Homo sapiens: one gene and its partner. The protein of the gene in region 1 interacts with the protein of each later gene in a pairwise test. Each region holds a gene or a part of one and is shown on either strand. Other genes may lie near its edges.

The links. The genes of interacting proteins can lie anywhere in the genome.
Region 2: the proteins of NTMT1 (region 1) and GLYR1 interact in binary tests that used the Homo sapiens proteins (3 or more experiments, as listed by UniProt).

The regions. Positions count from the first base shown.
Region 1 is NC_000009.12:129,629,163-129,632,662, reverse strand, and holds part of NTMT1 (N-terminal Xaa-Pro-Lys N-methyltransferase 1), read right to left. Parts: intron 14-3,500; 5' UTR 1-13. UniProt on the Homo sapiens protein: Distributive alpha-N-methyltransferase that methylates the N-terminus of target proteins containing the N-terminal motif [Ala/Gly/Pro/Ser]-Pro-Lys when the initiator Met is cleaved.
Region 2 is NC_000016.10:4,840,789-4,844,288, forward strand, and holds part of GLYR1 (cytokine-like nuclear factor N-PAC), read right to left. Parts: intron 2,815-3,500; exon of another isoform or gene 2,616-2,814; intron 603-2,615; exon of another isoform or gene 1-602. UniProt on the Homo sapiens protein: Cytokine-like nuclear factor with chromatin gene reader activity involved in chromatin modification and regulation of gene expression. Acts as a nucleosome-destabilizing factor that is recruited to genes during transcriptional activation.

The sequences.
Region 1 (3,500 bases):
AACCGCGACTCTCCTGGGTAAGGAAGGGGGCGTGAGTCAGCGGGCCAGGGACCTGGCAGAAAGGCCCCCAGGGCAGAGGGCCAGTCTCACACCAGGCTTCACAAGTCACACATCCTGCTGAGTGCAGAGAGAAGTCCAGGGTCCCCAAATCTGCTTCTACCCCTTGGATAACAGCATCTTCTGTCTTTTGCACTCAGAGCACCCGCCCCAAGTCCTGGCTTCAAGTTCTTTTACATTTTTATTTTTTCTGGAGTGCAGTGGTGTGATCATAGCTCAATGCAGCCTCCAACTCCCGAGCTCAAGAGACCCTCCCACCTCACCCTCCGGAGCAGCTAGGACTACAGTTGTGTGCCACCATGCCTGGCTAATTATTTTTTGTAGAGATGGGGTCTCACTATGTTACAAAGGTTGGTCTTGAAGTCCTGACCTCAAGAGATTCTCCCACCTTGGCCTCCCAAAGTGCTGGGATTACGGGTGTGAGCCCATGTGCCTGGCCTGGCTTCAAGTTCTTGATATGCTCTATATGACACCTGACTCAGTGGCTTCAGGGCACAGAAAACCCTGATCAATAAAGAGAAACGACCGCAAAGCCGAGAGCACCAGCAGACCCTGGAGGGCCAGGGAAGCTTCCACGCCTCCCTTCCTCTGGCTCAGAGCACAGCAACAACTCACGGTGGGGTCCAGTCCTCCGTTAACAAGGAGTGGGGACTCTGTGCCAGGCACCGGGCTGTGAACCAGGCAGCCAGCCAGGCAGAAAACAATTCTACAGACACAACCACACCTGCAGGGAGGGCTGCAGAGGAGAAGCGCCAGTGCCAGCAGAGCACGGAGGGAGGAAGTGGAGTCGGGTGCGGGGACCAGGGAAGGCATCCCTGAGGAGGGGACGCGTAAGCTGAAACCGATGGATGGGCAAGAATAAGCGCAGTAGGTGGAGGGCGACGGCACTGCTCCTGGAGGGAAGGACAGACAGCCCTCGCGGCTGCCAGTTCCTGGTCTCACAGTCAACTCTAGCAGTTTCGACTGCATCCTACAGAGCAATGAGTCAACCACCCTGAGGCCCAACAGAGAGTGGCCCGGGAAGACCGATGCTTCTGAAGACTGCTGGCGGCGGTGGAGATGGCAGGGGGATGAGGAGACGGTTGCCACGGTAGAAGGAGAGAGAACTAGAAAGCCTCAGCTGGGTCCTGGCAGCAGAGCCCAGGCCCACCTCACCCTTCAGGACAGCGATGACAGTTGGGCGGCTCCGTGCTCCACGGGTGGCCATTCTGCCATAAGCTTCCCAAGGCACAGTGCTGTCACCAAGGCACACCACGCTTAGGGGCTGTTCTAGTTGCTGTGAGGCTTGCCAAGACCTCAGAGAGCTCTAGTCCAGGAGGACAAAGAACAAAGGGAAAGAAAATACACAGCAGAAAAATAAGGATTCTCATGGACCCACAAAGTGTCGAGGACACTCAAAGGGCAGAGGAATCTCCTCCCAACAGCAGATAGGGGCAGCCGCCTGGAGGAGGCAGCCCGAGCTGGGCAGCCAAGCACAGGGAGTGCTGGAGGGGGTGGGGCAGACAGAGGGAGCAGCCGTGGGACAGCATGGGCCATCAGAGGGCGGAGAGTGGAGCGGGGGAAGACTGTGGAAGGTGAGCTCGGAAAGGCAGACGGGGCCTGGATGAGGGTGGCCTCGAGTGCATGCTGGGCACCAACTCTCGGCTGATGTGTTTCCCACACTGCCAAGGCCTAACCTAAAGGAGGCAGAGTGAGAATGGCAGTGGCCGTGCTGAGGACACACAGCAACAGTGGGTGGTAGGAATCCCAGCAGCAGCAGCTGCTACATCCTGATAAACCCATGGTAAAGGGAAAATACCCTCGGTGGAAAACGCGCAGCTGACTGGGAGCTGCAGCTCACCGCCTCGCACGTGCTGCCTCCACACGAGGAGAGCAGGGGGCTTCTAGCAAATGCCTGTCGCCAAAGTTGACAAATCGTAGGTCCAAGACCGTCTGCCTGACTCCTGGAGCTACAGGGTCAACACGGAAGAGTCCACATATGGAACTCGGGTACAGTCCTCAAACACAACTCAAAGCTTAAGACCCAGGAACACTCTAGGGGCTTCAAGAGAAGTGGTCAGAGGGAAACGGGAAAATGCCCTGAGAAGGAGCACGAGGCCTTTGGGAAGCAACTATGAGGAAAGAGAAGGGAAACTAAACACAAGACAAGCTGGAGAATTTTTTCTTCTTTTTTTTTAGAAAGGGTCTCACTGTCGCCAGACTTGAGTACAGCTCAGGTGATCCTCCCATCTCAGCCTCCAGGGTAGCTGGGACTGCAGGCACATACCGCCACACCTGGCTAACTTTTGTATTTTCTGTAGATATGGAGTTTTGCCACGTTGCCCAGGCTGGTCTCAAACACCTGGCTGCAAGCAATCCACCTGCCTCAGCCTCCCAAGGTGTTGGGATTACAGGCAGAAACCACTGCACCCAGCCAAGATTTTTCATTGGTCAAATTTGTTACTGGCCCCAGAACTATATTCTGCACTACTATATTCTGAACCTGTCCTGAAAGAGAAGGAACTTTCCAGAAGCAGTAGGCCCACCCCGCCCAGCCAGCTCAAGAATACTTCTAACAGATGCAACGGGGTTCTTCTTAGATCCGTGATTGGGTCTTCTCACCCTTAGCAGAATCCTTTGGCTGTGCCTAGAGAGAAGCCTGCTTAAACTTCTCTTCAGATTCTTGTTTTTTTGAGATGGGGTCTTACTATGTGGCCCAGGCTGGCCCCAAACTCCTGGGCTCAAGCCATCCTCCCTGCTCAGCCTCCCAAGTAGCTGAGATTACAGGCGCACGCCACTGCACCTGGCTTCCCTCTTCAGATTCTTGAATCCGCTCGCAGACTGACCCCTCACTTTACTGTTCACGCACAAGGGTTTCAGCCACAATGAAGAAAGGCAGCAGTCACTTCACCAATCAGGGAGCCCTTTGGGGTAACAGGCTGGGGAGGACCTTAGTTCTAAATATTGCACATAACACCCTCCCCGCAAGCTGACCACAAAGCTCCCACACTGGTGTCCCAGCACTGGGAACAACACTGCCGGAAGGAGAAAGAAGCCCACGGCTCAGAAACCCCATCTCTGTCAAAAATACACACATTCTAGTAGCTACTAGGGAGACTGAGGTGGGAGGATCACTTGAGCCTGGGAGGTCAAGGCTGCAGTGAGCCATGATCCTGCCTCTGCATTCCAGCCTGGGCAACAGAGTGAGACATTGTGTCAAAAAAAGAAGAAGAAGAATGAATTCTTCTTCCCACCAGACCTGCCAATCCTCAAGACTGCTAGATGTGCCCGGGTAGCTGACAGGAAAAAGGGCCACCAATCTGAATGTCACCATGTAGCTGGGTTTGGTGGCTGCTATGGTCTGATGGCGTAAGGACCAGGTTAGGTGGGCTGCCTGCCCCTCTGCCAGCAGGTACCGGAGCAACCATGTCACAGCCCTCCATCAGTCACTCAAGAGAGGACGG
Region 2 (3,500 bases), on another chromosome or scaffold:
GCACATTAGGCTGGTAACCAATCCAGAGCTCTTTCCCCAAAGTAATCTGCTGCCACCAGCCAATCTGGAGATCTTACCTTCATAGAAAAACACAAAATAAAATCTGCCCCAGCACTGATCACTAAGGAAGTGTTCCTTCTTTAGAGAAGTACTGTACATCTTTACCCTTTATTTCCTTTCTCTAAGTTAACTGCCTACCCACAAAAAGATAACACATTAGTACCACAGTGACTTCATTTTTATAGTTTAAAATGTAGAACTCTAGCAAAGGAGTTTAAAAAGTTAAAAATATTGCATTTAGCAGTTGCTTTGTATCCCACTTGTTTACAACCCTCCAAAGAACCTTCGTCAGTTAGAAATTATATCATCACCACCACCATCCAGGCTATTTTTGTCTTGAGCAAGCACATCACCACTGGCTTCACCTGTTTGCCTGGTTAAGCTCTGAAATTAACTCAACTCCAATTTTCTGTGTCCTATTTCTAGCACTTGTTATAAACAAGGATCACAGTTTATTAATCTAGTCTTTTAGCATTAAAAAAAAAATCGGGGCTCGGCGCTGTGGCTCATGCCCATAATGCCAGTACTTCGGGAGGCCGAGGTGGGAGGATCACTTGAGCCCAGGAGTTTGCGACCAGCCTGGGAAACATGGCGAGAACTTGTCTCTACAAAAAAAAAAAAAAAAAAAAAAAAAAAAAGTAAAAAATTTAGCAGGGCATGGTGGCACACAACTGTGGTCCCAGCTACTCGGACTGCTGAGGTGGGAGGATTACCTGAGCCTGGGAAGTCAAGGATGCAGTAAGCCATGTCCGTGATACTGCACTCCAACCCTTTCTCAAAAAAAAATCAAGAAACCAAACAAGAACAACAACAACAACAACAACAACAAAAAACATAAGGAAACAATGGCTTTCAGGCTCCTTATGAGACTGAGTTCCCATTTTTGTTTCAGACTTGTGTAATTATTCATTTAGCTAATGAAGTTTGGGCCAACCATATTGCCTCTGTTATTCCTAAGCACAAGTTACCTCAGGCAGGGAGCCTCTTCCTTTCCATAACACCCAGCTTAATGCCAATTGTTCATGGTATCCCCACTGTCTGAAATGCCCCTATAGTCCCCATCCATCCAGATTCTATGTATCTTCCAGAGCTGGATTCAAATCCCATCTCTGGCTGAGTGCGATGGCTCACGCCTGTAATCCCAGCACTTTGGGAGGCCGAGGCGGGCAGATCACGAGGTCAGGAGATCAAGACCATCTTGGCTAACATGGTGAAACCCTGCCTCTACTGAAAAATACAACAAAAATTAGCTGGGCATGGTGGTGTGCGCCTGTAGTCCCAGCTACTCGGGAGGCTGAGGCAGGAGAATGGCATGAACCCGGGAGGTGGAGCTTGTAGTGAGCCAAGATCGCGCCACTGCACTCCAGCCTGGGCGACAGAGCGAGACTCCGTTTCAAAAAAAAAAAAACAACAACAAAAAAAAACAAACAGAAAAACAAATCCCATCTCTTCAGTCAGTCTTCTTGGTTCTCATGGCTCTCCACTGAGCTCTCCCTCTTCTAGAATTCTTTTTCTTTTTAAGACAGGGTCTAGCTCTGTCACCCAGACTGGAGTGCAATATTGTGATCATGGCTCACTGCAGTTTTGACCTCCTGGGCTCAAGCAATCCTCCTGCCTTAGCCTTCTGCATACCTGGGACTACACTTGTGTGCCACCATGCCTGGCTATTGAAAAAAAAAATTTATTTTTTTAAGTAGAGACAAGGTCTTGCTATGTTGTCCAGGCTGGTCTCCGGCTCCTGGGCTCAAGCAATCCTCCTGTCTTGGCCTCCCAAAGTGCTGGGATTACAGGCATGAGCCACTGTGCCCAGCCTAGAATTAACAATTATCTGCCATCATTCATTCTGCACATAATCTTTATTTATTTTTTGAGACAGAGTCTCGCTCTGTCACCCAGACTGGAGTGCAGTGGCGCGATCTCAGCTCACTGCAACCTCCGCATCCCAGGTTCAACCAATTCTACTGCCTCAGCTTCCTGAGTAGCTGGGATTATAGGTGTGCACCACCACACCCGACTAATTTTTGTATTTTTAGTAGAGACAGGGTTTCACCATGTTGGCCAGGCTGTTCTCAAATTCCTGGCGTTAAGCAATCTGCCTGCCCCGGCCTCCCAAAGTGCTGGGGTTACAGGCATGAGCCACCATGCCCGACCATCATTGTGCACATCATCTTATCTGAAATGTTTACAACTTGTCACTTGACTGAGCATCTGGAAGGTGGGAACTATAATACTTGCTTTCTTATAAATTCCCTCAGTGTCAAGCAATTCAGAAAGTGGACACATAACACTGATGTTATGCATGAGGACAATCTTTCCTGTTTTTCTTTTTCTTTTCTGAGACATAGTCTCAGTCTGTCACCCATGCTGGAGTGCAGGGTCTCGAACAATCTCTGCCTCCTGGGTTCAGGCAATTCTCGAGCCTCAGCCTCCCAAGTAGCTGGGATTACAGGTAGACGCCAACACTCCTGGCTAATTTTTGTATTTTTTGTAGAGACGGGGTTTTGCCATGTTGGCCAGGATGGTCTCGAACTCATGACCTCCAGTGATCCACCCACCTTGGCCTCCCAAAGTACTGGGATTGCAGGCCTGAGGCACCATGCCCGGCCAAATCTTCTTTTTAAATCCATGGAGTTCTAAGAACATTCCCTCTTCCAGAAGCTCTGGCTCCACAGCTCCAGGCCAGCGATCTCCTTGAAATACTGCCACCACAGGCTGCTAAGCTGGCTTGTGATAGAGAAATGGGGCTGGGTCTATCTGTAAACATGAAACCAGGAAGAGCATCTGACATATAAACTCCTGGATGAGTGAAGAATACTGTTTATAATATATCGCTTTCTAAGTAGAAATACTTTAACCGTCAGAATTAGATTTACCAGAGAAGCCACAGACATTTTTTTCAAATCTAAGGCTGTATTTTCCTATAAGAATAATAAATAGAAATACAACTACTTAAAGAAATCAAACCGGCTGGGCATGGTGGCTCTTGCCTGTAATCCCAGCACTTTGGGAGGCTGAGGGGGTTGGGGGGGGGAGGGGCAGATGACTTGAGGTCAGGAGTTTGAGACCAGCCTGGCCAACATGGTGAAACCCCGTCTCTACTAAAAAATATAAAACAATTAGCCGGGTGTGGTGGTGTGCGCCTGTAGTCCCAGCTACTCGGGAGGCTCAGGCACCAGAATCACTTGTACCCGAGAGGTGGAGGTTGCAGTGAGCTGAGATCATGCCACTGCACTCCAGCCTGGGTGACAGAGTGAAACTCCATCTCAAAAAAAAAAAAAAAAAAAAATCAAACCATCTAGCTAGACCCAGGTAAGCCACTTGACATAGTGATAAAAAGCTAAACAAATCACTAGCAACTCAAGTTAATACAGGTTCTTCACGTTCTTCCCGTCACTGTAACATGTTATATGGTCAGAGTCTCAGATTAATGGTCCTGGTTT